7 linked regions of the Homo sapiens genome follow. The protein of the gene in region 7 purifies or fractionates together with the protein of the main gene of each other region. This does not show direct contact. Each region holds a gene or a part of one and is shown on either strand. Other genes may lie near its edges. The genes, in order: MYO1B, TMOD2, MCM8, BRIP1, ALMS1, RIPK4 and AVIL.

The links.
Region 1: the proteins of AVIL (region 7) and MYO1B purify together in Homo sapiens (affinity purification with mass spectrometry; 2 studies listed by BioGRID and IntAct, with this or other methods). This does not show direct contact.
Region 2: the proteins of AVIL (region 7) and TMOD2 purify together in Homo sapiens (affinity purification with mass spectrometry; 2 studies listed by BioGRID and IntAct, with this or other methods). This does not show direct contact.
Region 3: the proteins of AVIL (region 7) and MCM8 purify together in Homo sapiens (affinity purification with mass spectrometry; one large-scale study listed by BioGRID and IntAct). This does not show direct contact.
Region 4: the proteins of AVIL (region 7) and BRIP1 purify together in Homo sapiens (affinity purification with mass spectrometry; 2 studies listed by BioGRID and IntAct, with this or other methods). This does not show direct contact.
Region 5: the proteins of AVIL (region 7) and ALMS1 purify together in Homo sapiens (affinity purification with mass spectrometry; 2 studies listed by BioGRID and IntAct, with this or other methods). This does not show direct contact.
Region 6: the proteins of AVIL (region 7) and RIPK4 purify together in Homo sapiens (affinity purification with mass spectrometry, with the first as the bait; 2 studies listed by BioGRID). This does not show direct contact.

Annotation. Positions count from the first base shown.
Region 1 is NC_000002.12:191,380,859-191,385,150, forward strand, and holds part of MYO1B (unconventional myosin-Ib), read left to right. Parts: intron 1-603; coding exon 604-708; intron 709-2,421; coding exon 2,422-2,484; intron 2,485-4,292. UniProt on the Homo sapiens protein: Motor protein that may participate in process critical to neuronal development and function such as cell migration, neurite outgrowth and vesicular transport.
Region 2 is NC_000015.10:51,764,647-51,768,938, forward strand, and holds part of TMOD2 (tropomodulin-2), read left to right. Parts: intron 1-1,726; 5' UTR 1,727-1,795; coding exon 1,796-1,921; intron 1,922-3,615; coding exon 3,616-3,772; intron 3,773-4,292. UniProt on the Homo sapiens protein: Blocks the elongation and depolymerization of the actin filaments at the pointed end. The Tmod/TM complex contributes to the formation of the short actin protofilament, which in turn defines the geometry of the membrane skeleton.
Region 3 is NC_000020.11:5,970,972-5,975,263, reverse strand, and holds part of MCM8 (DNA helicase MCM8), read right to left. Parts: intron 3,258-4,292; coding exon 3,227-3,257; intron 2,689-3,226; coding exon of another isoform or gene 2,538-2,688; intron 2,209-2,537; coding exon 2,068-2,208; intron 1-2,067. UniProt on the Homo sapiens protein: Component of the MCM8-MCM9 complex, a complex involved in the repair of double-stranded DNA breaks (DBSs) and DNA interstrand cross-links (ICLs) by homologous recombination (HR).
Region 4 is NC_000017.11:61,776,012-61,780,303, forward strand, and holds part of BRIP1 (Fanconi anemia group J protein), read right to left. Parts: coding exon 4,250-4,292; intron 2,768-4,249; coding exon of another isoform or gene 2,729-2,767; exon of another isoform or gene 2,235-2,728; intron 2,169-2,234; coding exon of another isoform or gene 2,109-2,168; intron 552-2,108; coding exon 390-551; intron 1-389. UniProt on the Homo sapiens protein: DNA-dependent ATPase and 5'-3' DNA helicase required for the maintenance of chromosomal stability. Acts late in the Fanconi anemia pathway, after FANCD2 ubiquitination.
Region 5 is NC_000002.12:73,451,589-73,455,880, forward strand, and holds part of ALMS1 (centrosome-associated protein ALMS1), read left to right. Parts: coding exon 1-2,479; intron 2,480-3,573; coding exon 3,574-3,707; intron 3,708-4,292. UniProt on the Homo sapiens protein: Involved in PCM1-dependent intracellular transport. Required, directly or indirectly, for the localization of NCAPD2 to the proximal ends of centrioles.
Region 6 is NC_000021.9:41,749,748-41,754,039, reverse strand, and holds part of RIPK4 (receptor-interacting serine/threonine-protein kinase 4), read left to right. Parts: intron 1-2,794; coding exon 2,795-2,943; intron 2,944-4,292.
Region 7 is NC_000012.12:57,808,508-57,812,799, forward strand, and holds part of AVIL (advillin), read right to left. Parts: intron 2,621-4,292; coding exon 2,512-2,620; intron 2,420-2,511; coding exon 2,309-2,419; intron 2,045-2,308; coding exon 1,842-2,044; intron 1,384-1,841; coding exon 1,305-1,383; intron 1,219-1,304; exon of another isoform or gene 1,189-1,218; coding exon 1,090-1,188; exon of another isoform or gene 1,077-1,089; coding exon of another isoform or gene 1,035-1,076; intron 42-1,034; coding exon 1-41.

The sequences.
Region 1 (4,292 bases), on a different chromosome or scaffold from region 7:
GGAATACAGTGAACAAGAGAGCATGGTCAGCCCTCACCCATAAGAATGTACAGTCTAGTGAGGCAGATGTATATGAAACTAATCTGTACATGTGTATACTTACACATACACACATGTTCGTATAACATGATTTACAAAAAGGGTTAGGATGCAAGAGTCAGAGTGAGGGATCTGTCCCTGGATGGGGACAATAAGGGGTCAGTTCAGGGGGACTTCCTTGAGCTCTGAAGTTTCACCTGAGAATGGGAGATTCAGAACTTGGTGACAGAGATTGTGGAGCTCACTGTGTCTTTGCTGATCCTTCAGCAAAGGAAGTGAGATTGTTTCTAGCTTTTCTGTTTGGGGTGCTTCTCTGTCAACTAAAAGTCTTCATCCTTCAAATATTGCATCATTTGTGTATACTTCATTCATTCACTTACTCATGACCCACTCCTCGAGTGCCTGCAATGGGCAAGCGTCTGTCCTAGGAGCCGTGTGCTGGGCCACAGTTAAATCTGAGAGATCATGTGTGGCATTTCTCATGGATTGAGATGTCTGAGTGTCATTGTTTTGAGAGAGCTAGTGGCATGGTTTATAAAGCTGTTTTTCATTTTCTCCATACAGGACAACAGCTTTGAGCAGTTCATTATTAATTATTGTAACGAAAAGCTGCAACAAATCTTCATTGAACTTACTCTTAAAGAAGAGCAGGAGGAGTATATACGGGAGGTAATGTTGAAATGCTATTTTTAAAAGTGTTGGTCCTTTTTTACTCGTAATATAAATTCTAATTCAGAAGATAGCCTAAACAAGAAGCCATATTCAAAAGGCTACATACTGTATGATTCCATCTGTCATTCTAGAAGAGGCAAAGCTATAGAGACTGATTACCTATAAGAAGCTATAGAGTCAGGGATTGCCAGGAGATAGGAGTTGTGAGAGGGTTGTGGCTGCAAAGAGAATTTTGGGGACTGATAATGGTGGTGGTTGCTTGACATTATACATTTGCCAAAACTTAGAGAACTGTATACCAAAAAAGTCAGCATCACTGTAAGTAGATTTGAAAATATTTTGAGACTTTGTTCAATATCAAAAAGTATTGAGTATTCAAATTTATAGTAAAAATAGGTAACAGTTACTGAGTCCTTACTACATAGCAGGTATTATATTAAGTGCTATGTATAGATTATCTCATTTAATATAATCTTAAAATAACCAGAAGTAGTGTTTGCAGAGTCTTTTCATCATTAATTTAAAAATATATATTTGCTTTTCACCCTTTTATTTTTTAAAATAGCCAGTCTTTTTTCAAGTGTAAAATTAGTTATTTCAAAAAATAAAAAGGAATTGTTATGTTTATATTTTTATTTCCTTTTTTGTTTATTTGCCTTAATATTTTAGTAATGATATTACCTGTTTTCCTTTATTTTCTTAGTATCATTTTAAGCCATTAAGGACACTGAATTCTCTTTTATCTTTCTTTCCATATAGATTTTTCTAATGTGATTGTTATCCCCAGTGGCTTAGTAAAACAACCCATTTACTCAAAAGCTAAATCATAAATATTTCATCTTTATTTTAGAGTACTCATTATGCTTCAGAAATGTTTTATACTTGTCTGGCACCTTTTAGTAACATAAATATTCTAAAAGCACGATTCATTCTTTTCCTGTCTTCTCATCATGAAGAGAATGCCCAAACTTTGATGGGTAACTTAAAACAGTTTATACAGATTGTTTAAAACACTTCTAAGAATATATAGGAAGATTGCTAGCTTGCTGTAATGAATAGAAGACAAATAAATGTTTACATTTATGGACAGAATGTTAAGTAGACACAGAAAGATTACATTTGGCTTTATGGATTTGGCTTTGTAGCCAGTGTTAGAACCAGTGGATAGATTTTCATGTCTTTCCTTATGTTGAAAATACTTTGTGGTAGCGCTGGCCTGTTTTTTTTAACACTTGAAAGAGTTAACTTCCCTACAACACAAGATTGACTCTAAAATTAATTTTTTTCCTTATGATTACAGATTCAGAACAGAAGAATCTAGGCTTTAAATTCTTGGGATCAAGTTCTAACTTATTTCCTTATAAACATTGTAAACATACACAACGTAATATTGACCCAAGGGCCTGTTGAGTAAATATTTGGCCCAGGGCCAGTGAAGTGCATGGGAAATTGCTGCAGATGGGAGAGTGGAATGGAAGGCAGTCTCAGAACAGGTCAAGGGTGTTTGCTTCAATCAGATTATGTCAGTGGTAGGCAGCTGCATTGAGAAAGTTTTGGGAACTGCCTGTGACATTTGCAGTACCCATTCTATAAAGAAAATAAATTCAGAGAGGAAGGGAAATATGATAAGATGGTCAAAGTCTGTTTTATGGATGGTAGTGTCGTGGCTTCATCTTGTGTCATTGGATTTTGTTCTGTTTTGTCTTTTAGGATATAGAATGGACTCACATTGACTACTTCAATAATGCTATCATTTGTGACCTAATAGAAAATGTGAGTACTTAGGTACAGTTTTCTAAAGAATGTTTTAGTCCTATAATTCACCCTTATAAATGTTCTCAGTGCCTCAATGTTAAGCATTAGTATTTTCACTGTTTTTTATATATATATATATATATATATATACACACACACATATATATGTGTATATATATATATATACACGTACACACACACACACACACACACACACACACACATATATATATATGTTAAGGAACTGCAGAGTTCTAGAGATTTTATTGTAGCCCTAAGAGATCATACACAGTTCTTGAACACATACATAGACAGCTGGATGTTTTGATACTTAGCCAGGATCCCCAGTGGCCATATCACAACACCCTTTTATGACCTTCAGACACCAGGCCTTAAAGGTACCAGCCTTTCTTGTATGGTTGGAGCCCAGGTCTATTCCATGACTCCTGGGCATGTGAGTACTGATCAGAGTAGGCTCTGAGCAGCCATCCAGTTTTTTGCCAAATCAAAATATCCATTTCATTCCCAAAACTCTAATGACCTCTTAACATACTATTCACCGGGTATTATATTAAGTTTAAGTGACATAAAGGGACAACCTCTGGAGCTGAATTAAGTGGGACCCCAGAAGTGGCTTAAGTGCAGCTGTAGCATTGATTCAGATCATACATGCAGAGGGCATTGCATGTGTGACTGCAGGTGGCCAGGGACCTGGAATTTTTCGGATGACCCAAGTATGTGCATATGCAAAAAGGCTTAAAGTGTGAAAAATTATTGGATAATTTCGAGTAAGCTTTCTGAGTCCAAGATTTTTGTTTTTAGATCATATTCCGTAGTTTATTGTAAATGAATTAAATGTAGGAAGACTGATTTTGTGTGTGGAAAACAGGAAACTAATTTATGCTTAGGATTACTAATACCTGACTTTGAATAAGTAATTTGAAACAGTGTATAAGCCTTATTATCCTGCAGTCTTTTTAGCAAGACCAGTTTAGTGAGATGAGTGCTGTGTTTCAGGAATACAGTCACATGCTCTGAATGAATATTAAATCATTTTCTACTCATCTTTTACAAAGCTTTTTGGGAAATATGTAATTAGCCAGTATTTTTTTTCCTCAGTATTCAAGATATTCCTAAAAGTTGTTTCTCTGATTAAATTAAACAATATTCTAAGGCATCACTATTTTTCAATAAGAAATAAACTGTGTTTCAAAAAATCTGAACAATATTGAATGGGAACACTAATATTCCACATAAGCAATTCAGATCTCTGATTTTGGCTCTGAAAAGTGAATTTCCTGAAAATTTTCCTGGTACATTTTGTGAAGGAGGTAATTTGCTATGGGAATCTTAATTTTCAGAATTTCTGATTAGTATGTTTTCTTTGATAAATATAACCTTGCATTTAATTATTCTCTTTTAAGAAGAGGAGAAAAAGAACAGTGGTAATACACTTAATTTAACTAGATTATCTCAGCCAAAAATCCCCTTGCTATATGATTGAAGAAGCTCATGTTCACATAGGAACCTGGGTATATAAAGGAAATGTTTCCTTCCAGCATCATTAAACAATAATGTTTGTTCTGGGGATGTTATGAACACACTTGATTCCTGAGAGTCCACGCTTCCCCAGGGTTTTGTGTGGAATGAATAAATGCTGGTCAGAGGATGTCGTGGCCTTGTTAGCAGAAGGGGAGAGGAACAGAGGACTTTGCCTGGGTGGAAGTAGGTGGGGTTGATGGTCAGTGGAGTGGATTGTTTTTGGAATTAAGACTTATGACCCCATAGGGGCAGTCCATGGAGTAGCAGTCTTTATTTAGCAAAGT
Region 2 (4,292 bases), on a different chromosome or scaffold from region 7:
TGTCCCACCCTCGTCTTTAGTTCTTTCCTCTCCCTTCCTCCATGAATCCCCCTCTGTAGCCATGCCGCCTGCTCTACCAGCATATCATTTACTGTCTTATCCTGTACCCCTTTGTGCTGTTCCCTTTTCCTAGAATGACACTTGCCCATTCATGTCCACCTTATGACCTCCTCCTTCAATGTTCAAACACAGCCTCTTTTTCACAGTTTCCCCTCAAACTTCCCCCACTTACTCAGTGATTATTTCCCCATGTGTTTTCAAACCTACTTTTTACATTATGTCTAATACTTACGGCATTATTGCTGTTTGTGTGAGAGTCTCACTAAGCTGTGATCTTGGGGAGAGGGGGCATTTTGATAAATATAATTTTTTTTTTGAGAGAGTCTCACTCTGTCACCCAGGCTGGAGTGCAGTGATGCCATCTCAGCACTGCAACCTCTGCCTCCCGGGTTCAAGCAATTCTCCTGCCTCAGCCTCCCGACTAGCTGGGACTACAGGCACATGCCACCACACCCAGCTAATTTTTGTATTTTTAGTAGAGATGGGGTTTCACCATATTGGTCAGGCTGGTCTCAAACTCCTGACCTCAGGTGATCCACCTGCCTTGGCCTTCCAAAGTGCTGGGATTACAGGCGTGAGCCAACGTTCCTGGCCTCCTCATGTGTTTTTAAACCTACTTTATACGTTACGTCTAATACTTATGACATTATTGCTATTTGTGTGCCTGTCTCACTAAGCTGTGATCTTCTTGGGGAAAGGTGGCATATCTTGTTTATCTTTGTATTTCTGTTTGCTAGAACTATGCCTGGCAAATAGTAGGTATATAACAAATATTTATTGGCCTGAAAGATGTGATTGGTGGTAATACCTCCTAAGGAGAAACACAGTCAGTGAAGTACATTACTGTTTCCTGAATGAGTATTATCTTTCTAAGGAAGATCTGTAGAATCCTCTGCAAGGAGAAAGGGATTGAGTAAAAATTGCATTTTGGGTGAATATTTAGAAGTGAGGTGGTATAAAAAATAAGGGTCGAGAGAAGAACGGTCTGAGGGTATAAAGAATGAATACGTAGAACAAAAAGGAAATGGGACTAGAAATAGAATGGAAAACAAAGCAAGGAGAAAAATAGAGAGAGTGATCATGTGGCCAGGATTTTAGAATCGCACTTAGTTTAATTGCAGGGGAGTTACTGGACAATGCTTTCTCACATAGACGTTCCAAACTCTCGTTCCTGAATGAATCCCATTTTGTATTCTTCACATCACTCTCTCCCTGAAAAGACACAAGTATGCTTCTTACAACTGCCTTACAATTAGTGCATTGTTCTCCCCTGTTTTTCTATGGAGAGCCAGGGAAGGCAGAGTAGTATAAGGGAAAAGCACCCACTATGCTGGGAATCAGAAGGCGGGGCTCACGCATCCCAGCTCTGTGACCTCGAGCAAGGCACTAGGCCACTTTCACCTCAGAATTGTCATCTATAAAATGGGAATGATAATATCGTCACGGGCTTCCTCACAGGATTGTTGTAAAGATCAAAATAAGTGAAATATGTGAAAACACTTTGTAAGCTGTCAGGTTGCTCTGCAAATGAAGGGAATATTACCTTTTTGTTGAATTATTCATTCAATACAGTAGGCTCCATTGGAGGCATACTTCTGTCTCCTGTTAATAAGTCCTGTTTACAGAACGGAGATTCTTTTTTATTGTGTTTCTTTTTTATTAACAGTATTCTGAAGTCTCAGGAAACTGGACCATTTAAATGTGCATGGCCCATGAGAAAGGCTTATAAGAAGCCATGGCACTCCCCTTTCAAAAAGAGCTGGAGAAATACAAGAACATTGATGAAGATGAGCTTCTTGGCAAACTCTCAGAAGAGGAACTGAAACAGTTGGAAAATGTTCTAGATGACCTAGATCCTGAGGTTAGTGACATGGAACTGAAGCAGAGTGGTTAATGATAGTATGGATAAATGGCATGGCTTGGTCCTTAAACAATGGTAGAAATCCCTTAGCTCGGAATGCACATTTTCTTTTCTTCCTCTGATTGGTTCTGGGTCACCTGTGTTTACAAATTCATAGAGAACCTCATAGCCACTACAGTGTGATACAGCAAATGTATTTCTCAAAAACCAGCCCAATGTAAATGGGGGGAAATATTTTCCGTTGGTTGAGAAAGGACTAGTCTTGTTTAGGGGAAAAAGAAGGAAAGAGGAAAAGAGAGCAAATCTTACTGAGTTTTTTCTGAGTCATATATTTCTCTGGGCACAGAAGCCCTTGAGGTAAACTTTATTAACCCCTAGACATGGAGAGGTAATTTATATAAGATTCCACACTGGTAAGTGTCAGAGATGGTATTTAAACCAGGTTTTTAGGCCCAAATGCAGAATTTTTTTTTTTTTTGAGACAGTCTCACTCTGTCACCCAGGCTGGAGTGCCGTGGCAAGATCTCGGCTCACTGCAACCTCTGCCTCCCAGATTCAAGCGATTCTCCTACCTCAGCCTCCCAGGTAGCTGAAATTATAGACACATGCCACCATGCCTGGCTGATTTTTATATTTTTAGTAGAGACGGGGTTTCGCCAGGTTGGCCATGTTGGTCTCGAATTCCTGACCTCAGGTGATCTGCCCACCTCAGCCTCCCAAAGTACTGGGATTATAGGCCTAAGCCACCACACCCGGCCCCAAACGCAGATTTTTAAAAATATCTCATTTCTTTCAAATGCACAAATAATGTGAACTCTTTGATGAACTTATAACAAAGAATAGATTAGACTGACTATAATCATGATACCAAGTTCATTTCAATGGAGTTTCTAATGTTTTTATAAGTTCTTGAAAAGCTAAGTCGCTTGTTATATTGTTTGATTAGCAAGCACTTTCTTCAGACCTGCTGGTATGATCTTAAACTTAGAATTAGCAGTACTTTTATAAAAAAAGATATGCTGGAAATTGCTCCGTGTAATTTTTTAAATAAAAAGTCAATTACGGTTAAAAAAAAAAAATCGGAGCCATCCAAAATAGTGATTTTACCATAAATAAAAATATAACTAAAACAAAATTATGTATATGGTATTCTGATATGTCAGATACTTTGGATATGGTATTTACTTTTAAAAATACAGATATTCTGTTGTTGTTTTTTTAAATTAAGGAAGGAATCTGAAAGCTTTATCAAGCAGGCATTAACATCATCATAGTGTTTACTTATCAGCTTTACTGCTTCTGCAGGAGAGGGGTTCCCCATGTCAGCTCCTTGTTAGAGTCTCATGTTTCTGCCTGGGAGCACCTTGGGTGCAGCCCTAGCCAAACCTAAGCATGATCTACAAGGAAAGAGGTCTTTTGCCTCCATGTTTTAGGAGGCAGCTTCAGAAACTCAGAGGCTGCTCTAGCCATCTATGCGCTGCTTGAGCTCATTGGGAGCCCCCTCTCAGCACTGAACATTATAACAAATAGGGCCTCAGAGGCGTCCCAGAGCCCCCAGCCCTCAGCTCACACGCACATTCTGCGTAGGTATCCTTCCTGCTTCCCCAGCACATAGTGAGTGGGGGTGGAAGAGGAAGTAGCAAAGTACAGGCCGGCAGACATCTTCCTTCCTGCTCACACCTCTTTCTTGTCAGAGTGCCATGCTGCCAGCTGGATTTCGACAGAAAGACCAGACACAGAAGGCAGCCACCGGCCCCTTTGACCGCGAGCACCTCCTCATGTACCTGGAGAAGGAGGCTTTGGAACAGAAAGACAGAGAGGACTTTGTGCCCTTCACTGGAGAAAAGAAAGGTAAGGACCACAGGCAGAGCATCTTGGAACAGAGGTTCTCTCTTTTTTTTTTTTGGAACGGAGGCACTCTTAATTAAGATTACCTCTTTTTATTTTATTGTCGTGGAGGATCAAGCAAGGGAACTGTCCCAGACATGGGAAATAAGCCCATGAATTGGATTCAGTATTTATTTTATTGTCGTGGAGGGTCAAGCAAGGGAACTGTCCGGGAAATGGGAAATAAGCCCATGAACTGGATTCAGTATTTATTTTATTGTCGTGGAGGGTCAAGCAAGGGAACTGTCTGGGAAATGGGAAATAAGCCCATGAACTAGATTCAGTATTTATTTTATTGTCGTGGAGGGTCAAGCAAGGGAACTGTCCCGGAAATGGGAAATAAGCCCATGAACTGGATTCAGTATTTATTTTATTGTCGTGGAGGGTCAAGCAAGGGAACTGTCCCGGAAATGGGAAATAAGCCCATGAACTGGAGTCGGTGTTAAAAAGAATCATGGCTGCTAGCTAGACATATGTCATTCTA
Region 3 (4,292 bases), on a different chromosome or scaffold from region 7:
TTTTAAAGACAGGGTCTTGCTCTATTGCCCAGGCTGGGGTACAGTTGCATAACGATGGCTCCCTGCATTCTCCAACTTCTAGGCTCAAGCAATCATCCTGCTGCAGCCTCCGGAGTAGCAGGGACTACAGGTGTGCGCCACCATGCCCAGCTAATTGTTTTCTTTTTTGTAGAGATAGGGTCTCACTTTGTTGCACAGGCTGGTCTTGAACTCCAGGCCTCAAGTAATCCTTCCGACTTGGCCTCCCAAAGTGTTAGGATTACAGGCGTAAGCCACTGCACCCAGATTCCTGTTCATGATGAGCTTTGTTTCACCTGTAAGGGGTACCCTGAGCCTCTGTTGTCAGGCTACATTGTAGCGAGGTCTCAGAACAGAATTTATTTTTTAAAAAGTAGCCCCAGATGGCCAAAAGGAACCAAACATAGATGAAATATCTATGGAATTATAATAATATCTAGGAATTAAAATGACTGGTTTAACACTCAACCACAGGCAATAAAGGATGACTCAGATATGAAGGACAGTGGGTTTATAATGTAATGACAAGATCAAAGCAGTTCTCAAGGCTGGCTGCATATTAGAATCATCTGTGGACTGTTGTACACATATAGACACTAGGACCCTAACTTAGAAACTCTTAACTCAATTGGCTTGCAGTGGGCTATGGTATTTTCAAAGAGCTCCAAAAGTAATTAAGATGTGCAGCCAGGATCCCAATCCTTGGAAAAAGATTTAGGAGCCATACTACTACAACTTACTAAAGGGCCAGAGAAGCCCTGGTCAATTTTCCACATCGAGTGAAGAAGGGGGCCACAGGCATTTTTAGAAAGCACAGTGGCCAAGCACAGTGGTTCACACCTTTAATCCCAGCACTTTGGAAGGCTAAGGCAGGTGGATCTGCTTGAGCCCAGGAGTTCGAGACCAGCCTGGGCAACATGGCAAAACCCCATCTCTACAAAAAAAGCATTAGCCAGGCATGGTGGCACATGTCTATAGTCCCAGCTACTTGAGAGGCTGAGTTGGAAGAATTGCCTGAGCCCAAGGTGGAAGCTGCAGTAAGCCAAAGTTGCGCCACTGTACTTCAGTCTGGGCAAAAGAGGAAGACCTTGTCTCAAAAAAATAAAGTAGAAAGCACATTACGGCTGGCTTACCGGTTGTCACTTTAAGGAAACTACAAGCATACCAATAAGCAGCACCTTCTAAAGCCATCATAAAACCCAGGAAAGGAAAACCACTAGGCTCTGACTGGCAGAGGCAGAATTTTCTTGGGGATCTACAAATGACTGATCACAGCAGTTGCCTTGCTTTGGACAGAGCGTGGTGGCTCACACCGGTAATCCCAGCACTTTGGGAGGTTAAGGTGGGTGGATCACTTGAGGCCAAGAGTTCAAGACCAGCCTGGCCAACACAGCAAAACCCTGTCTCTACTAAAAATACAAAAATTAGCTGGGCGTGGTGGTGCGCACCTATAATCCCAGCTACTCAGGAGGCTGAGGCACAGGGATTGCTTAAAAGTGGGAGGCAGAGGTTGCAGTGAGCCCAGATCATGCCACTGCACTCCAGCCTGGGCAACAGAGTGTGACTCCGTCTCAAAAAAAAAGGTTGCCTTGATTTGGACTCACAAGCAGTGGAGATATATACAGACAGATCCCACACCTTTAGCAGACTGTTCTTAAAGCCCAATACAGTGTTTATGTACTTGTATGAGGGAGAATAGGTGACCCTGCTTTAACTCCCCTGAACTATTCTGTTCATAGGTGAGGTCACATAACAACTAACAACAACAAAGACTAGCAAAACAATGGTTAGAGAAATGGTTAATATTTCCTAATAGTTGATGTCTCAACAGACCAAGATGTTTGTACAGCCTCTGTAACAGGAGACTGGCTCAATTTAAAAATATGGTCAGATATAAGTTACATATTACTCACACAAATTCCAATTCATTTACGCCACCTAACCATGTCCTCTGGAACACACACACTACATGCTTTGAGAAAATTCACTTGTGAATTATTAACGCATTTTACAAGCAAAAGAACAAACACTAAATGACTGATTGTCTACCTGTAGCATTTGACTTTTTCCTAGGCCTGGATCTCCAACAACAAGGATGTGGGGGTCTCCCCGAATTGGAATTCTGTTTTTGTCATCTGCGTATTTCTGGCTTCCTCCAAAGAGTGCTAATGCCAAACCTGCTTTAACAAGCTCAAGTGCGAAAAAAGAACAAAAAACAGAAGTAAGGAAAACATAAAGGTGACTAGTAAAGGGGGTATTCCTCCTTCTATAATATTAATTTGTTTGGGGATTGTTTTAAAAGCATGATAATTTTTTTCTAAGAAAAGGAAGTCTAAAAACAAACTTCTATCACGTAAATGATTAAAAAGTAAAAACTTGAAAACATATAAAATCAGAGCTATCTTAGAAATTACTAAGAGCTACCTTGCAAGGCATAAATCCATTCCACAAAAACGAGAAATATTTGTTTTTGCTTTAATACTGGCAGTGTCTAGTCACTTTAAAAGCCCATTTCTTACCAAAAGTAGCTGGGTCTGGTGGCGCATGCCTGTAGTCCCAGCTACTCGGCAGGCTGAGGTGGGAGAACTGTTTGAACTTGGGAGGTGGAGGTTGCAGTGAGCTGAGATCGCACCACTGTACTCTAGCCTGGGCGACAGAGCAAGACTCCATCTCAAAAAAATAAATAAATAAAATAAAAGCCCATTCATATTTACTCTAGTTGGTAAAAGTTTTTTCTTAAAAGGAGCTATACGGCTGACACCTATAATCCCAGCACTTTGGAGGCTAAATTGGGTGGATCACTTGAGGCCAGGACTTACAGACCAGCGTGGGCAACATGGCAAAACCCCATCTCTACAAAAAATACAAAAAAATTAGCTGCACATGGTGGTGCATGCCTGTAGTTCCAGCTACTCAGGAGGCTGAGGTCAGGAGGATGACCTGAGCCCCAAAGCTGGAGGTTGCAGTGAGCCATGACTGTGCCATCACACTCTAGCCTGGGTGACAGAGCAAAACCCTGTCTCAAAAAATTAAAAAAATTAAAAAAAAAAAAGCTATAGTTTGCTTGCCTCCCATATCATTAATTTACAAAGCATATTAAGATATAAATAACTGGCCAATAGAAATTTGCTACTTTCTGTAAAGTTTTTATATGTTATTTTTGCTAACCTTATATACTTTTTGAGTAAAGATGAAGTAAAATACTTACTTCATGACCAAAAATGACAGGGCAAAGCGAGCTGAAAAACAGAACACAACTTATAAATTCTAATTTATACTTCATTGATCCATTAGGAGATCTCCTCTACAATTTGTTTAACCTGCTTAATATCAACAAAGACAAATGTAAAAAATTTACATCCCCTCAACTGAAATTTTATTCTTACAGTACATTTCTCAAAGTTCTTGGTTAATCTATAAAGGTTAGAATTTTTTAAAAACTCTGCATAAGGAACAGAGGATACTTGCAAAGCATCTTAAAGTAACTAAATACAATGTTGCTCTTCTTACACAACTAGCCTTAAAATGCGTCACAATCATGGTCTTCCATTTTAGGATACGGGATTATATTGTATTTTATGTGAACAGACATCTTGAGACTGTGCAGCCAAGTCACTGAAAGGAGACTGAGAAGTGAACTCAGTATATAATACTCTAAGATGGGATAAAATTTCATTTTTTTCAGTTCAAGTCAAAAGGTCAAATTAAATAAGAAAATGAGGCCAGGTGCAGTGATTTGTAGAACCAGAAAGTCCAGAAAGGTGGGATAACTCAAAGCATGGGCTTCCAGCCTACAGGTAAATCTAAACATTTTCTGGTTGACAATTGGTTGAGTTTGTCTAAAGACCTGGGATCAATAGAAAGGAATGTTTGGGATGCAAGAGGTTGTAGAGACCAAAGTTTTATCATGCAGATGAAGCTTTGGCTAACAGGTTTCAGAGAGAACAGGCTGTAAAATGTTTCTTATTAGACTTAAAATCTGTGTTGATGTTAATGCCAGAGAGGTATAATAAGGCATGTCTGACCCCCACTTCCCTTTGTGGCCTGAATCAGTCTTTCAGGTTAAATCTTAAGAGCCCTGGCTGAGAAGGAAGTCTGTTTAAATGGGTGGGGGGCCTTGGAATTTTATTTTTGGTTTACAGGTTCATGCCTGTAATCCCAGCAAGCACTCTGGGAGGCCAAGGTGGAAGAACTGCTTCAGCCCAAAAGTTCAAAACTAGCCTGTGCAACAAAGTGAGACCCCGATATCTATAAAAAAAAAAATTAAAAATTAG
Region 4 (4,292 bases), on a different chromosome or scaffold from region 7:
TAGCTGGGACTATAGGTGTGTGCCACCACACCCAGCTAATTTTTGTATTTTGTAGAGGCAGAGTTTCACCATGTTCTCCAGGCTGGTCTCGAACTCCTGGGCTCAAGTGATCCTCCCAGCTCAGCCTCCCAACCTGCTGGGATTACAAGCATGAGCCACCACGTCCAGCCTTGCTCTTTCAGACTTTTAAGTAAAACAGAGGTAGGACAATCAGGCAGTATCTTAATCAAAAAATAAGTAAAATAATATGTGATGTTTAGAAAACTATAGTTATTACCTTGTTGCCTCTACCCTAGGAAGCTTACTGTGGTAATTTTAAAATTAGCATGCCAATGTTTAAAATGTAAATGATTATTTAAAGGCAAAAGAAACAATAAATATTCCCTTACCTTGTAAGATGGCAAGAAACACAAAATTCCTTGGCTCACAGTCTGGCACACAGATAACAAAAGTGCTCCCACTTCATCTTGGAACTCAAATGTTTCAGTATTCTGGAAGGTAGCACAGAGATTCCGACCCTTGGGGCCTGACCCAATGGTACCAACCCAAACCTAGAATATGAATATGTCATTATTAGAGTTATGCCTGAAAAAGGCATGGAAATTAGTATTTATTTGGAAGTATGTACATAAAAGATCAAGCAACAAGTTTAACAATTTATTTTTAAATTGTCAGGGGGTTTTCTATTACCTTCAATTAACTGTATACAGATTTAATTTATAAATGTTTTGCTTTAGGCAGATCACTAAATTCTCTTAGAGTGAAAATTCTTTGAAAGCAAAACAGGTTGTACCTGTCTCTGTTTACTTAATAGCTTTGCAAAATTTAAGCATGTAACAAATTTTTGTTAGGTGAATAAATGAACAAGTGAAATGATGAATATATACCAATAGCAGAATCAGATAATTCCAAAATACTGGGGATGAAGGCCAGTATAATTTGCCATAGGCAAGTCTCAAAAATGACAGGAACTACTCTTTCAAAAATTCATTGGTGCTCAAAGATCCTTAGTCATAGAAAAAAATCACACCCACCACATCTTACAGTTATTTGCAATTCTATCTCCCTTATATGTAGAGAGAGGGAGAGAGACGAAAATTTTGCAAAATGTTAACAAGTGATGAATCTAGGTGAAGGATATAAAGATATTCACAATATTAATATTATCTTTCCAACTTTTCTGAAATTTCTAATTTTTTGAAATACAGTTGAAAGAATCAATGAATGAATGATCAAAATGTAGCATTGAGTAGAAAAAAACAAACTTTTTCCTTTGCTCTCACACCACAGCAATCAACACAGAAAACTTCTGTGACCAAATGTGTGGGAGGTTTTTTCCACATACCAAGCAATCAATTCTGCAACAGACATCAACTGGGTGTCCTCTAATTCAATTCAATTCTGATACTATCTACTGGGAGATGATAACTTCAGATCCCAGAGGTTGAGGGCTCAGTCCCCAAGACTGCCCCTGATTTCTGTGGCCAGTCACAGTTGTTTTTACTTGCACTTCTGACTGATCAGCTAGAAATCGGGCATCCCACAACCCTCTGCTTGGGTTCAATTAATTTGGTAGAGCTGCTCACAGAACCCAGGGACACATTTACCTACACTTACTGATTTATTAGAAAAAATATTACAAAGGATACAGATAAAGAGATGTATGTGGGAAGGGGCTCAGAGCTTCAATTCCCAGGCACATCACCCTCCAAGTGTTCAGGAACCTCCAAGTGTTCAGCTATCTGGAAGCTCTCTGAACCCTGTCCTTCTAGGTTTTTATGGAGGCTTCATTATGTAGGCATGATTGATTAAACCACTGGCCATTAAGATAAACTTAACCTTTAGCATCATCTCCCCCAAGCCCTCCCCAGAGGTTGAGGAATGGGGGTGAAAATCCCAACTCTCCTATCATGTCTTGGTCTTCCCGGAGGCCAGCCCTGATCCTGATGCTACCTAGGAGCCCCCTACCATTAGTCATCTCATTAGCATACAAAATGTCACTTTGGAGATTCTAAGGATTTTAGGAGTTGTATGCCAGGAAATGGAGTGGAAGACCAAATATATATATTATAAATCACAGGCATATACACACAAGAAACATTATTCACCTTTAAAGAGGAAACTCTGGCACATGCTACAACATAGATGATGAACTTTGAAGACATTATCTGCAACATGGACAAACCTTGAGGACATTACTAAGTAAAATAAGCCAGTCACAAAAACGACAAATATTTTATGATTCCACTTATATGAAGTATTTATAGTAATCAGATTCATAGAAACAGAAAGCAGAATGGTAGTTACCAGGAGCTGAGGAGAGGGGGAGAATAGAGAGCTGTTGTTTAATGGGAACAGAGTTTCAGTTTTTCAAGAGGAGAAAGTCTTGAGATTGGTTGCACAACAACATATACATACTTAATAAGACTGAGCTGTATACTCAAAAATGGTTAAGATGGTAAATTTTATATATATTCTACCACAATTAAAAGTTTTTTAAATTTTAAGTTGAAGGAAAATATTACAGTGTAACAGAATCCAGCTGCACAACTACATTATTATAATTCAGCGACATTATAGGTTAAATGGACTTTTGTGCAGTAGGCTGAGAACATAGAGCCTGTAATAACATTCTTATGAGAAAACGTATGCTGAATTTACCAACTTCCCATATTTATCTGTGTCTCTAAAGAAAGCAACTTGAAAACGTGGAACATGTATTCTTCCTTCACTGCTGTTCATAGTCACATTTCTCAGCAGGAACACTCTGGCATTTGGAAAGCACAATTCTTAGTTACATAGGAGTAGCATTCTAGGTTCCCAACTACCAAATGCCGTAGTTGCTCCCAAGTAATTGTGAGGACCAAAAATGTTCCCACCTATAAACCTGTGTATATAGCTTAATAAAGAGCTAGCATTGTGTTAGGCACACAGGTGATGTTAACTTAACCACTTTAGCATTAACCACAGCTTAACATCACCTGTGTGCCTAACCACTTTAAAATATTTCATAAAAAGAAACCAGAAGGCATAATGAAAAATAACAATCTATACATTTCCACAAAAATTAAAATAACATTTAGTAGCCATCGTTATAAAACATTAAAATCTTAAATCATAGGACTCATAAGAGTACTTTTAACTCATTTCAGATATTCAAACATGCTGAACACTTGCTAAATACCAGCTATTAATCTAGGCACAGAGGAAGAACGTGGATGTAAAAGGAAGAATCAGGATACACTGTAGTCTAATGGAAAAGAGAAGCATAAATAATTATACAAGCTGGGCATGGTAGTACATGCCTGTAGTCCCAGCTACTCAGGAGGCTGAGGCAGGTGGACTGCCTGAGCCTGGGAGTTTGAAGCCAGCCTGGGCAACATAGCAAGCGACCTTGTCTCTAAAAAGATAAAGTCTGGCCAAAATGGCAAAACCCCGTCTCTACTAAAAATACAAAAATGTGCCAGGCATGGTGGCATACACCCATAATCCCAGCTACTCAGAAGGTTGAGGCAGGAGAACCGCTGGAACCCAGGAGGCGAAGGCTGCAGTGAGCCAAGATCGCACCACTGCACTCCAGTCTGGGTGACAGAGCAAAACCTTGTCTCAAAAAATAAAAGTAAAAATAAAAATACAGAGATAAAATAAATAAAATATAAATAGGCTGGGCACAGTGGCTCACGCCTGTAATCCCAACACTTTGGGAGGCTGAGGCAAGTGCATCATTTGAGGGCAGGAGTTCAAGACCAGAATGGACAACATGCTGAAACCCCATCTCTACCAAAAAAATAAAAAATTAGCCAGGCGTGCGGCGCACACCTGTAATCTCAGCAACTTGAGAGGCTGAAGCAGGAGAATTGCTTAAACACGAGTGAGCCAAGATCACACCACTGCACTCCAGCCTGGGCAACAGAGCCAGACTCTGTCTCAAAAATCAATCAATCAATAAATAAAACATAATTATACAATGAGAATTAAAGAAATCAAAATTTTGTTTTCATTACAAAACTAAAACTTACTTAGAAGAAGAAGCTGAAATACAGCCTTTTGCATCCCAAGTGACTGGATTATTTCCTTCTGTTGACACATCATTAAGTAGCTGACAGATTTTCTTTTATTGTAAAACTGGAATGTTGAATTTCCTACCAAGATTTACTTGCTGGCACTTCAGGTATCTTCTAACTTGTTTACATAGTTATATTGAAGTAGAAACACTGAAGGCCTTCCAAAAAAAAAAACAACAACTAACCTGTGAATTTTTAATGATATGATTAGCCTCCAGCTGGATAGTA
Region 5 (4,292 bases), on a different chromosome or scaffold from region 7:
GCTCTGAAAGTTCCACCTGTTCCTGGACCAGATGCCCAGAAGACTGAGACACCATCAGTATCCTCTAGTTTATACTCATATAGAGAGAAGCCCATTGTCTTCTACCAACAGGCCCTGCCAGACAGTGAGCTAACTCAAGAAGCTCTGAAAGTTTCAGCTGTTCCTCAACCAGCTGACCAGAAGACTGGGTTATCTACTGTAACTTCCTCTTTCTATTCACATACAGAGAAGCCTAATATTTCTTACCAGCAAGAGTTGCCAGATAGTCATCTAACTGAAGAGGCTCTGAAAGTTTCAAATGTTCCTGGACCAGCTGACCAGAAGACTGGGGTATCAACAGTAACCTCTACTTCCTACTCACACAGAGAGAAGCCCATTGTTTCCTACCAGCGAGAGTTGCCGCATTTTACTGAAGCAGGTTTGAAAATTTTAAGAGTTCCTGGACCAGCTGACCAGAAGACTGGAATAAACATCCTGCCCTCTAATTCCTACCCACAGAGAGAGCACTCTGTCATTTCTTATGAGCAGGAGTTGCCAGATCTTACTGAAGTAACTTTGAAAGCAATAGGGGTTCCTGGGCCTGCTGACCAGAAGACTGGGATACAAATAGCATCCTCTAGTTCCTACTCAAATAGAGAGAAGGCCAGTATTTTTCATCAGCAGGAGTTGCCAGATGTTACTGAAGAAGCTTTAAATGTTTTTGTTGTTCCTGGACAAGGTGACCGGAAGACTGAGATACCAACAGTACCTTTAAGTTACTACTCACGTAGAGAGAAGCCCAGTGTTATCTCTCAACAGGAGTTGCCAGACAGTCATCTCACAGAAGAGGCTCTGAAAGTTTCACCTGTTTCTATACCAGCAGAGCAGAAGACTGGGATACCAATAGGACTGTCTAGTTCCTACTCACATTCACATAAAGAGAAACTCAAGATTTCAACTGTGCATATACCAGATGACCAGAAAACTGAGTTTCCAGCAGCTACCCTTAGTTCCTACTCACAAATAGAGAAGCCCAAGATTTCAACTGTGATTGGACCAAATGACCAGAAGACTCCATCCCAGACAGCTTTTCATAGTTCCTATTCTCAAACAGTAAAGCCCAATATTTTATTTCAACAGCAGTTGCCAGATAGAGATCAAAGTAAAGGTATTCTAAAGATTTCAGCTGTCCCTGAACTAACTGATGTGAATACTGGAAAACCAGTATCTCTCTCTAGTTCTTATTTTCACAGAGAGAAATCGAATATTTTCAGTCCACAGGAATTGCCAGGTAGTCATGTAACTGAAGATGTGCTGAAGGTTTCAACAATTCCTGGACCAGCTGGCCAGAAAACAGTATTACCAACAGCTCTTCCTAGTTCCTTTTCACATCGAGAGAAACCAGATATTTTCTATCAAAAGGATTTGCCAGATAGACATCTAACTGAAGATGCTCTAAAGATCTCAAGTGCTCTTGGGCAAGCTGATCAAATTACCGGATTACAAACAGTTCCCTCTGGTACTTACTCACATGGTGAGAATCACAAGCTTGTTTCAGAACATGTCCAAAGGCTAATAGATAATTTGAATTCTTCTGACTCCAGTGTTAGCTCAAATAATGTGCTTTTAAATTCTCAGGCTGATGACAGAGTTGTAATAAATAAACCAGAATCTGCAGGTTTTAGAGATGTTGGCTCTGAAGAAATCCAGGATGCAGAAAATAGTGCTAAAACTCTTAAGGAAATTCGGACACTTTTGATGGAGGCAGAAAATATGGCACTGAAACGATGCAATTTTCCTGCTCCCCTTGCCCGTTTCAGAGATATTAGTGATATTTCATTTATACAATCTAAGAAGGTGGTTTGCTTCAAAGAACCCTCTTCCACGGGTGTATCTAATGGTGATTTGCTTCACAGACAGCCATTCACAGAGGAAAGCCCAAGCAGCAGGTGCATACAGAAGGATATTGGCACACAGACGAATTTGAAATGCCGGAGAGGCATTGAAAATTGGGAGTTTATTAGTTCAACTACAGTTAGAAGTCCTCTACAGGAAGCAGAGAGCAAAGTCAGTATGGCATTAGAAGAAACTCTTAGGCAATATCAAGCAGCCAAATCTGTAATGAGGTCTGAACCTGAAGGGTGTAGTGGAACCATTGGGAATAAAATTATTATCCCTATGATGACTGTCATAAAAAGTGATTCAAGTAGTGATGCCAGTGATGGAAATGGTTCCTGCTCGTGGGACAGTAATTTACCAGAGTCTTTGGAATCAGTTTCTGATGTTCTTCTAAACTTCTTTCCATATGTTTCACCCAAGACAAGTATAACAGATAGCAGGGAGGAAGAGGGTGTGTCAGAGAGTGAGGATGGTGGTGGTAGCAGTGTAGATTCACTGGCTGCACATGTGAAAAACCTTCTGCAATGTGAATCCTCACTGAATCATGCTAAAGAAATACTCAGAAATGCAGAGGAAGAGGAAAGCCGGGTACGAGCACATGGTAAGAAGAAAGTTTCAGGCTTATAAACGTTATAGTTTAATAATGTGTTTAAAGTTAGATATTTATGTTTTGAGGAAGCTTAGCCAATGAAAAATACAAGCAAGATCAAGAAAAAAAATGAAGTTAGATATTTGGAGTTCTAAATGTATTTTCCAATAGAATTGTTAGAATGACTATATTTCTTCTAACAATCCATAAAAAGCCTATTTAACCAATAATGTAGTTAAGTTACAGTATTAATAGTACCAGCCTGAGTTTACGTTCTTGTTCTTAGGAGAAGTAGATTCTGATGTATGACAGAGAGTAAAGAGGTCGCTTGGGCTCCTGAGCTCCTAAAGCTATCACGTTTCTCTAATCCTCCCATTATAGTATCCTTATTCTGAAGGCAGAAAGAGCCTCCAATTTGCTGTGCTCTAAATTGCTTTTTGTCCTAAAACTACATATATTTTCTCTTTCCCTTTTCTAATAGAACTCTTGGTGTTGATCTCAGACATTTGAAAAAAAAATCAATGTATTTTATACTAAAACTTGGGTTAGAGGTTTAAAAGAGAATATTTACAAATCTCATTAATTTCTAATAGAATTCCATTAAAAACAAAAATCTGTAAGACAATATGGGGAATATATTTTGGGAGGCAATTTAAAAGCAATTTAGGCCTACCTAGAAATCGTCCCTTGAGGTTAACTTCCTACGCTGTTCCCTGCACATTTTTATTCTACAAAAAAACCTCCAAGTTGTATTTATTACTTTTAAATATCAGCTGTCATGGAATTATGAGTAATTGTAGCAGGAACTAAAGGGAGAGGTAAAGAAACTCATGATTAAAAGGAGGATTAAGATAAATATGATTGATTACCCGATTTAAAGTGGCTTTTTTGTAGAATTATCTATAGAGCATGACTTAAGAAAATCAGACTTTGCAGTGAAAGGATCTCTGTCAAGAATTTCTAATAGGTTGTCATAATTGAGAAGAAGACATACTAAGCATTGCAGTGGGTATTAAATTGCATATATTGATGATCTTCTGTGTTGCAATTGTTGACAAATTATCACTTTTGCATTGTATTATCTCAAGTGTATGCTTTCTCTCCAGCCTGGAATATGAAGTTCAATTTAGCACATGATTGTGGATACTCCATTTCAGAATTAAATGAAGATGACAGGAGGAAAGTAGAAGAGATCAAGGCAGAGTTATTTGGTCATGGAAGAACAACTGACTTGTCCAAGGTATAAAAGAAATCTGGAAATGAAGAAAGTAAATATGAAAGAATGGGTGATGGAATTAGGATCTCTTACTTGGGCATCAGTTGAGTTGCTGATAATATTTGGCTAAAGCCTTTTTTGGTTTTGTTTTTGAGACAGTCTTGCTCTGTTGCCCAGGCTGAAGTGCAGCAGTGCAATCACAGGTCACTGCAGCCCTGAACTCTTAGACTCAAGGAATCCTCCCACCTCAGCCTCTCAGGTAGCTGGGACCACATGTGTGTACCGCCCTGCTCGGCTAATTTTTAAATTTTTGGCAGAGACAGGGTCTCTACGTTGCCCAGGCTGGTCTTGAACGCTTGGATTCAAGCGATCCTCTTGCCTTGGCCTCCCAAAATGCTGGGATTACAGGCATGAGCCACTGTGCCTAGGCAGGCATCTTAATTTTTCAAAAGTTAAGATATAAGTATTAGATTCTTACAGTCTAGATATGTTGTTTTTATTGATTCCAAATTCATATTTTGAAAAATTTATCTTCTTAGAAAAATAAGAACTGATTTGCTTGTTTTATCAATTTTTTTTTTAAGAACAGAGAAGACTAAATGTCACCCT
Region 6 (4,292 bases), on a different chromosome or scaffold from region 7:
AAATATCACAGCAACTGTCTACTTCATGAAGCAGTTAAATGTAAATAGTATACAAAGTAATAGTATCAAATTAATGCTTGATATTATTCAACATTACATATACTAAATACCAATATTAAGATACTAGTTGGAATCAATTTCAACTTAAAAATGAAATAACTTGGTTTAAAATCTCAGGCTGCATTTATATGTCCAGTTAGCCCAAAACAGACGCTTTTCAAAGGGTCACACGCGGGTCACGTTCTGCTGTGTCTTTCTTTTAGAGGCAGCAAAACCCCGGCAGGCTGCTTTCTTAGTCTTGACAGCTGGACCTTGAAGTTGAAGGGCCATGTGCTTGGGGGCAGCTGTGAGCCCTCAGCTCTTGGAGATGCAGAGTCGGGTGCTGATGAGAGTGTTTGTAACTCTTGAAGCATTTGCTGGTCAGAGTGGATGCCACAGTAGCTCGCTGTTGAGGACACGGGGTGAGGGGCAGCTTGGGTGGGAAGATGAGGAAAGGCGGAGGGGAAATGCAGCCGGCCAGGAGTCCGAGACATGGAGGGAGGAGAACATAGAGGGTCAGTGACCCTCCTAGAATTCTCAATTCCGAGCTTGCATTTTGTTGCCAGAGGTTTTACAGAGAATTTCTGCTCGTTTTCTTTTCACCAAGTATAGTTTGGAGTGGCTGGCTCTATCTGACAAAGACAGGAGGAGAAAAGGCTGCAGGCCTGGGGAAGCACCAGGCTGAGATCTCTGCACCCCTGTCGTTTTTCTTTTCTTTTCTTTTCTTTCTTAATGATCTCAGATGTCATTTAATTTTCACAACAAAGCTACAGGATGGGTACTGCTATTGCCTCCTTTTATGAAAAAAGGAAACAGGCACAGAGAGGCTAATAGTCCAGGGCCACGGAGCTACTAACTTGTACAGGCAAGATTAGAACAGTGAGTCTGATCCTTAACTAACCGTGGGAGGGAGATATTTTTTTCCTACATTCAACCATACAGGGGGAGGAGGAATTGCCTAGAAAGTATGTGATGCTTTCTTTATTTTTATTATTATTTTTTATTTTACTTTTAGTTCCGGGATACATGTGCAGAATGTGCCAGTTTGTTACATAGGTTTATATGTGCCATGGTGGTTTGCTGCACCCATCCACCATCTAGGTTATCACCTAGGTTTTAAGACCCGCATGCATTAGGTGTTTGTCCTAATGCTCTCCCTTCCCTCTTCCCCTACGCACCGACAGGGCCCGGCGTGTGATGTTCCCCTCCCTCTGTCCATGTGTTCTCATTGTTCAGCCCATTTCTGAATTTGAAGGCTTTCAAGCCACTGATGACTGTTGAACTGAAACTTCCTGTGCTCTGGAGCTATTTGGAGAGTTAGGACCCGTTGTTGTGTCCCAGCGTCCAGCAGCCGCCGGGGTTTGCAGGGTCGGGTGATGGCGTTCCTCTGGGGAGCTGGCGCTTTCCCTGGAGTGCAGAGTGTGGCTCTCAAGGGCGGTGCAGGCCTGAAGGCCCTGGGAGAAATGGAAGTGGGAGGACATGAGAGCCGCTGGAGTCGAGGCCTTGTCCTGGTGCTCCTGGCTGCAGAGAAGGAGGGCCGGTCCCTGCTCGCAGGCCTTCCCCCCTACCTCCCTGCAGATGTGCTCAGGATCCCTGGAAGCCCGAGTCACAGGTCATAAATTCTCCCAGCTGTTTGGTGCTGATGACAGCAGCCCTATTGGCTCACCACATGGGCATGGCCAGCCCAGAATTAAGGCCTGACTCAGCCTCATTTCCTGTCACTCCATGGGTGTGTTTGAGAGGAGCTCAAGAGTTAATGAAAAGGGTTTTTAAAAAAATCCATATGCCTTGAAGGAAAGTTGAGAGCAGCACTCCCCCTGGATCAAGAGTCCCATTAATGCTGATGACTTGTGTCTTCATCCCACATACGGTTTTCAGCAGCTTCAAAGGGGACTGAGTTACACTGGAGAGGGTAGGACACTGGCAGGAAAGGGGATGCCCCCGAGAGAGGTCAGACCGGGGGTCTGTGAAGTCTCCCCAGTGAGCTCCAAGGTCACCTTTGCCCGAAGGAGACCTGAGACCTGCCTCCCCTGAATGCGGACGTTGAGGGCATTCCTGGAGGAGCTGGGTGGCCGGTGCTCCTTGGGGCCCGGGCGCTGCCAGCAGAGGTGTTTATCAGACCTTCACTCGAACACATGTGTTTGAAGCAGCCAGCCAGTGTCTGCTGATCACAAAACACTCCAGATGGACGGGGCTCTGAGGCGTGTGTTTTGTTTGCTTTAAAGTTTAAAGGGCTTCTGAAGGTGTGTTTCTGTGTTTCCCTTTAAAGGACTTGCAGCCACTTGCCCGCCAGCCTCCCCAGCTGGCAGGTTGCATAACCTGCTCCCCGACTTCTCTAGGAGCAGACCTGGTCTTCACATGTGTCTCTCTTTACCTGAACCCTCGAAGGCTTGTTTTTTTCCCTTTATGCCGGCTCAGCCGGCTCTCAACCACCATGGCAAACATGATGCTTTACAGAAGGTGGATTCTAATTCTTCTGCAGTTCTGTCCCGGATAACTCCTTCCTTACAGTACGATTCTTTCACCTGCCCGTCAAATGTGCTGCTCCTAATGCCTCCAGGCTTGCTTCTGCCCCAGAATCTGTCTCCCTCCCTGCCTGGGGCAGGGCTACCTGGAGAGGCACAGACACGGCTCTTAGGGGCTCCTGGAAAGCTCTCACCCACCCTCTGAGATTGCAGAAGGGAGCTTTTGATAAAGCATCATAAAATATCACTGTTGCAGGCTAATGAGCCCCGCTCTGATGGCTGTGTTGCAGATTTCTGATTTTGGTCTGGCCAAGTGCAACGGGCTGTCCCACTCGCATGACCTCAGCATGGATGGCCTGTTTGGCACAATCGCCTACCTCCCTCCAGAGCGCATCAGGGAGAAGAGCCGGCTCTTCGACACCAAGCACGATGTATACAGGTGTGTGACATGCCGCCCCCCATCCCCTGTGGGTGCCAGGGGCTCTCAACCTCAATGCTTCATGCCCTGAGCTGCAGCTTTCAGAAAGGCCTCTTGCTGCCAGTCAGAAATGGGGCTCGGGCCAGGCGCGGTGACTCACGCCTGTAATCCCAGCACTGCGGGAGGCCGAGGCAGGAGGATTACTTGAGCCCAGGAGTTTGAGACCAGCCTGGGCAACATGGTGAAACCTCATCTCTACAAAAAATACAAAAATTAGCCCAGCTTGGTGGCGTGCACCTGTAGTCCCAGCTACTCGGGACTGAGGTTGGGGGATTGCTTGAGCCCGGGAGGTGGAGATTGCAGTAAGTCATGATTGCACCACTGCATTCCAGCCTGGGCAACAGAGCGCGACCCTGTCTAAAAAACAAACAAACAGAAAGGGGGCTAAGTCCACATAGAAGGGGTGGGTGCTTGTAGAGTTCAGGGATTTCTTTGCTGTGAGTGTTGCTAGCCAAGGAGGAAGGGTGTTCCCAGGTCCACATTTGGGCCAGGCTGACAGCCCTGCCCTGTCAGAGCCTTGGTGATTTCATGACCCGTGGGCTTTATGGCTTGTCTGTTGGAAGAACCTGCTGCTTTCAGTGGTCTGTACGCATGTGTGTTTGTACTTTCCGAAATTCACTCTGATTTTGTGAGGCGAGCAGCTCATCTTCTTCATGGCACTTAACCTTTGTTGGTCAGAGATCAATCCCCAAGTCACCTAGTCCCTTCCTTTTTCAAATTGTAAAGGTCTTAATCACACAGACTTCTTGGAGAAGAAAAGTGGGTGGGAGCGTGTGAGCAGGCACTAAGCCTCCCATTGTGGCTGTTATCCAGCAGCACTGTGACTCGGACCCCGCATGTGAGCTCTGCCTTTTGGTCACTGCCGCCGCCAGCAGCCCAGGCTGACTGGTTTGACAGTGGCCATTGTGCATGTGCTTAGCTGGGGCTTTAAGCTGAGAGTTGCCTGGAAGTGTCACTTTGGAGACTAGTCACAGCTTGTAGAGTTTGGGGAGATTGAGATCCTCTCCATTTATTTTAGAGTTTGGAGTTCCAGCTTTTGAACCTGCCGTTTGAACTAATTTTCGATGGTGAATTCGTTGTCTATAAACAGCCCTCACCAACTCAGTGCTCCTTGGAGGCTCAGTTTTCGGACTTCTGTTTTTCTTTTCTTTTTTTTTTTTTTTTTTTTAATCAATTTGGGCACTTTTTTTGGTGTATCCAGAGTAATGTACATGAACGTATCCCTCATATTATCTATATATTTCTAAGCAGCCCCCGAAAAAGGCTTTGGGGCGTTCAGCTGTGTTGTCTCCTACGTTTTCTGCGCACTT
Region 7 (4,292 bases):
ACATTGGTGCTGCTGGGGTAGCTCTTCATCTTGATGAAGCCCTGCAGAGCCACCCATTCCCAAAGGCAGGTCAGTGGTGGAATACACTGAGTTCTTTGCTTGTCTGGTAATTCACCTCTATGAAGCCACATGATATAAGCGTCTCCCCTCTGGGAGTCAGAGTCAAATTCTAACTCACTTTTGTCTAAGGACCAAGGTACCTGCCTAAAAAAAAAATGACTGAGTGGAACATTTTTGGATCTGTTTATTGGCTTGCGGTGATTATGGTTGTTAATTTTTAGGATGATTATGCTGTGTTCTTTCAGTACTTTTGTCCTTACTGACTTTGCATCACATTTGTTTGCTCATTTATTGCTTCTGGCTTGGTTCATCTGCATGGATCTGCACAAATATAAGCTCCTTGAGGACAGGGCCATTAACCTTGATATGTGATATCCCCTTCAATAATAACAGCCACCTTTTATTCAGCAGGTACTGTGTGCCAAGAACTGTTCTGAGTGCTTTTTTTTTTTTTAGACAGAGTCTCGCTCTCACCTAGGCTGGAGTGCCGTGGCGTGATCTCGGCTCACTGCAGCCTCCCGGGTTCAAGTGATTTTCCTATCTCAGTGCCCTGCCAGGTAGCCTGGACTACCGGCATGCGCCACCATGCCTGGATAATTTTTTTTGTATCTTTAGTAGAGACAGGGTTTCACTATGTTGGCAGGCTGGTCTTGAACTCCTTACCTCAGGTGATCCACCTGCCTCGGCCTCCCAAAGTGCTGGGATTACAGGCGTGAGCCACTGCGCCCGGCCCTGAGTGCTTTACAAATGATATTTAATCCTCACAATAACCCTAGGAGATGGGTATGACCCCCATGTTAGATATGGGGAAACTGAGGCCCACAGGTGTTAAGTATGTCTTCCCCAGAGCACACAGCTGGAAAAGACAAAACCTGGATTTGAATCCCAGTTTGTCTGCCTGACTTTGCAGTCCATGTACGTAAGCACAATGTTATATGCTCAAATACCTAGCATGGCTCTGTGGAGTGACACACCTGAAGTGCTCTTAGCAGAATTATTTGAACAGTATTGCACATCTGTAGCTCCTACCAGCGCTTTAGACATGGCTGCCTGTTTTTCAGCCTTTGTGGCTCCTTTTCCTTTCCACACGTAGATTTTGGTTCCACTTTGGTCCAGGATGTAGCAGTCCTAAAGCAGCCAGAGATAGGTATGGTTGCTCAAGACCAGAAGGAAGATTTTGCACAGGGTCTGCTTCTGAAGCATGTCTGGCTACCCCAAGCTAAGTCCACCCAAACTCTACTTACATCATGGTTCAGTAAGTCCTGGACCAGAGGCCTTGTTGCTACCTCTGTGACTGCCAGCTGCCCAGCTGAATCTGAGATACTGGAGAAGGGGAGAGGTTAGCCTGTGCCTTTTCCTCTATAAAGCATCTTGTAGTCAACTAGATGTTGTTCTGGTTTGGTTTTAGTTTGGAGTTTCTAGGTAGAGTGTGACTGCCTAAGACAGCCATGACTTGAGTGAGGACAGGAATGTGCAGACTCTTTTCTTTGGTGGAGACTTTTGTTCATCTCTCTCCCAAACATTATCCCTTCCACATCCCTGGGCATGTGTAGGCTAGAGTAAAGGAAAGGTCTCCTCAAGAGATCAGGAGAGTTGCTAACAAGAACTGCCTCCTTGAGTGGGGGATCTCCAAGCTTTCTAGGAGCTGCATTTGAAAAGGACTAAGAAGAAAACCAGATGGCTACACCCAAAACAAGGAGCCAAGCAGAGGTGGCTGGTGTTCTAGGGGACACCTTCCCCCCAACCCCAGCTTCCAGCTAAAACCAGGTTGAGCTACTCACTGATACAACATGATAGTTGATTTCTGCTTCTGATCTATGATCTCATCAGGGACTGTAGGCTTGATAATGGAGCGTCGGCCAAGGGTGTCCTGAAGGACCTTCATCAGCTCTGGGCTGGCTGCCTCCTTGTCTCCCTCGATCACTCCTATTTTAGCACGGCCCCCTCGCTCCCTGTCTCGAATATCCTTTGCCAGAAGCATAGCCTGTCAAAGAAGCCCAAGGAAGCCCTCAGCTCCTCTGGGACCCCTTTCTGCCTGATGTCTTTGGGGAGAACAGCCTAGATCCCAGACACAGGAGTTACTTGGATGCTGAGGAGTCCAGGGTGAGTCACAAACTCACACACTTGGCCTGTCTCCAAGACAGATTCTACTCAAAGGCAGGGCTCCACCTTGATTCTTGGGGAAGAGCCAGCATGGAGGGAAGAAGAAAGAGGAACTTGAGAAAGTGCTAAGGCTAGGAAGCCATACCTTCAGGCGCTCCCCACTGTTGCTCTCTGGGCCATTCCATTGGATGATGACTTTCCCAAGGTCCAGCAAGAAGACATCACCTCGGTTGAAACTGTCCCAGCTCATTTCCACCTGTCGATGAGAGGTAAACATTGTTCAGGAGGAATTCTTAGGTGCCAGGTGGAGAAGCCCCGGGCCTGGGGCAGAGAGTGTGCAGGACTAACCTCGGTAGCCCTGATGTTTCTTTTCCCTTTCACATGTAGCAGCCGCTTCACGTCGTAGGTATTGGTCTCCACGTGCTTCATCCCAGAGGCGACACCCCCCTGCTTGTAGCTAAGGGAACATCCATTCAGTTATTTGAGTGCCTGCTATGTGCTAGGTTCTGGGGAGACAGTGGTGAATTACACAGATGCAGCCTCACTCATGTGATGACAGTACATCAGCAAGGTAAATACAGATGGTGGCAGCTGCTGCCCCACAAGTAGACTGGGTGAGTGACTTTCTGGTAGCGAGTTGGGGCAGTCTTCTCTGAAGAAATGACATTTGAACTGAGATACTACAAGGAAAATGAACCAATACCCAGAAGAATAGTGCTCCAGGCACTATAACAGTGTCCAGGAGACATCAGTGACAAAGACCCCTGCACCACAGAGGGCTTGTTTTGTTCCAGGAACTGTCTGAATGCCAGTGTGTTACTGGGAGAGGGATACAAGTTGTGCTGCAGCAGAAGCATTAATGACTCCACGGCCTTAAGACCACCTACCCTAGGAATCAGCTCACCCGCCCTGCACTCAGCCCAGCCCAGCCTCCGAGCCAGGGGTCCTGCACTTTAAGGGAATGCGGAAGGTAGCCCTGGAGCAGAGGGGCTCTGTCCTTGGGTTCCCCAGTGGCTCAGTGTGCTCCTCTGTGCCCAGAAGGGCCTCAGTCAGTGGAGACTGCTGACCTGCAAGAAGCTGATCTTGGCCCAGCCTCACAATTCTCAAGCTCATTGGAATTCCTCTTTTTGTTTTAATATCAGGGGCAAAGTTTTGAGTTAAACTTCTCAGTTGATGGAACATTATCATCAGCCTTCGCTCCCTCTCTAGTGTTATGTGTCTGTGCATTCCCTTTATCTGCCTGTCCTACTCCCATTCCTCTCCCCAATACGCTTCCATTCTAACTGTTGACCTTTTTATTTTCATTCTAGTAAACTGTGTCCCCCACCTTTTTTTTTAAAGACAGGGTCTCACTCTGTCACTCAGGCTAGAGTTCAATAGTGCAATCATGGCTCATTGCAGCCTTGACCTCCCGGGCTCAAGTGATCCTCATCAGGGACTGCAGGCTCGATAATTGAGGGCTCAATACCCTCAGCCCATGGAGTAGCTAGGACTATAGGAGTGCACCGCCATGCCTGGCTAGCTTTTTTACAAAATATTTTTTGTGGAGATGAGGGTCTTACTGTGTTGCCTAGGCTGATCTTGAACTCTTGGGCTCAAGCTATCCTCTTGCCTCAGCCTCCCAAAGTGCTGGGATTACAGGTGTGAGCCACCACGCCCAACCCATCCTGTTGTTTTGTGTGCATGTTTTTGTTTTGTTTTGTTTTGTTTGAGATGGTGTCTTGCTGTGTTGCGGGGCTGGAGGGCAGTGGCATGATCTCAGCTCAGTGCAACCTTCGCCTCCTGGGTTCAAATGATTCTCCTGCCTCAGCCTCCCGAGTAGCTGGGATTACAGGTGTGCACCAGCATGCCCGGCTAATTTTTGTATTATTAGTAGAGACGGGGTTTCACCATGTTGATCAGGCTGGTCTTGAACTCCTGACCTCGTGATCCGCCTGCCTCGGCCTCCCAAAGTGCTGGGATTACAGGCGTAAGCCACCATGCCTGGCCATGCGTGTGCTTTTTAAAACAGAAATTGGCATTCTGTTATATGTCTTAGTCTGTTTCTTACTTTGTGTGCTAAGCACCATGTTTGTGAGCTCTGTCCTTGTGTTAGGTGTGTATCTAATCTGTTGCTTCTGGCTACTGCA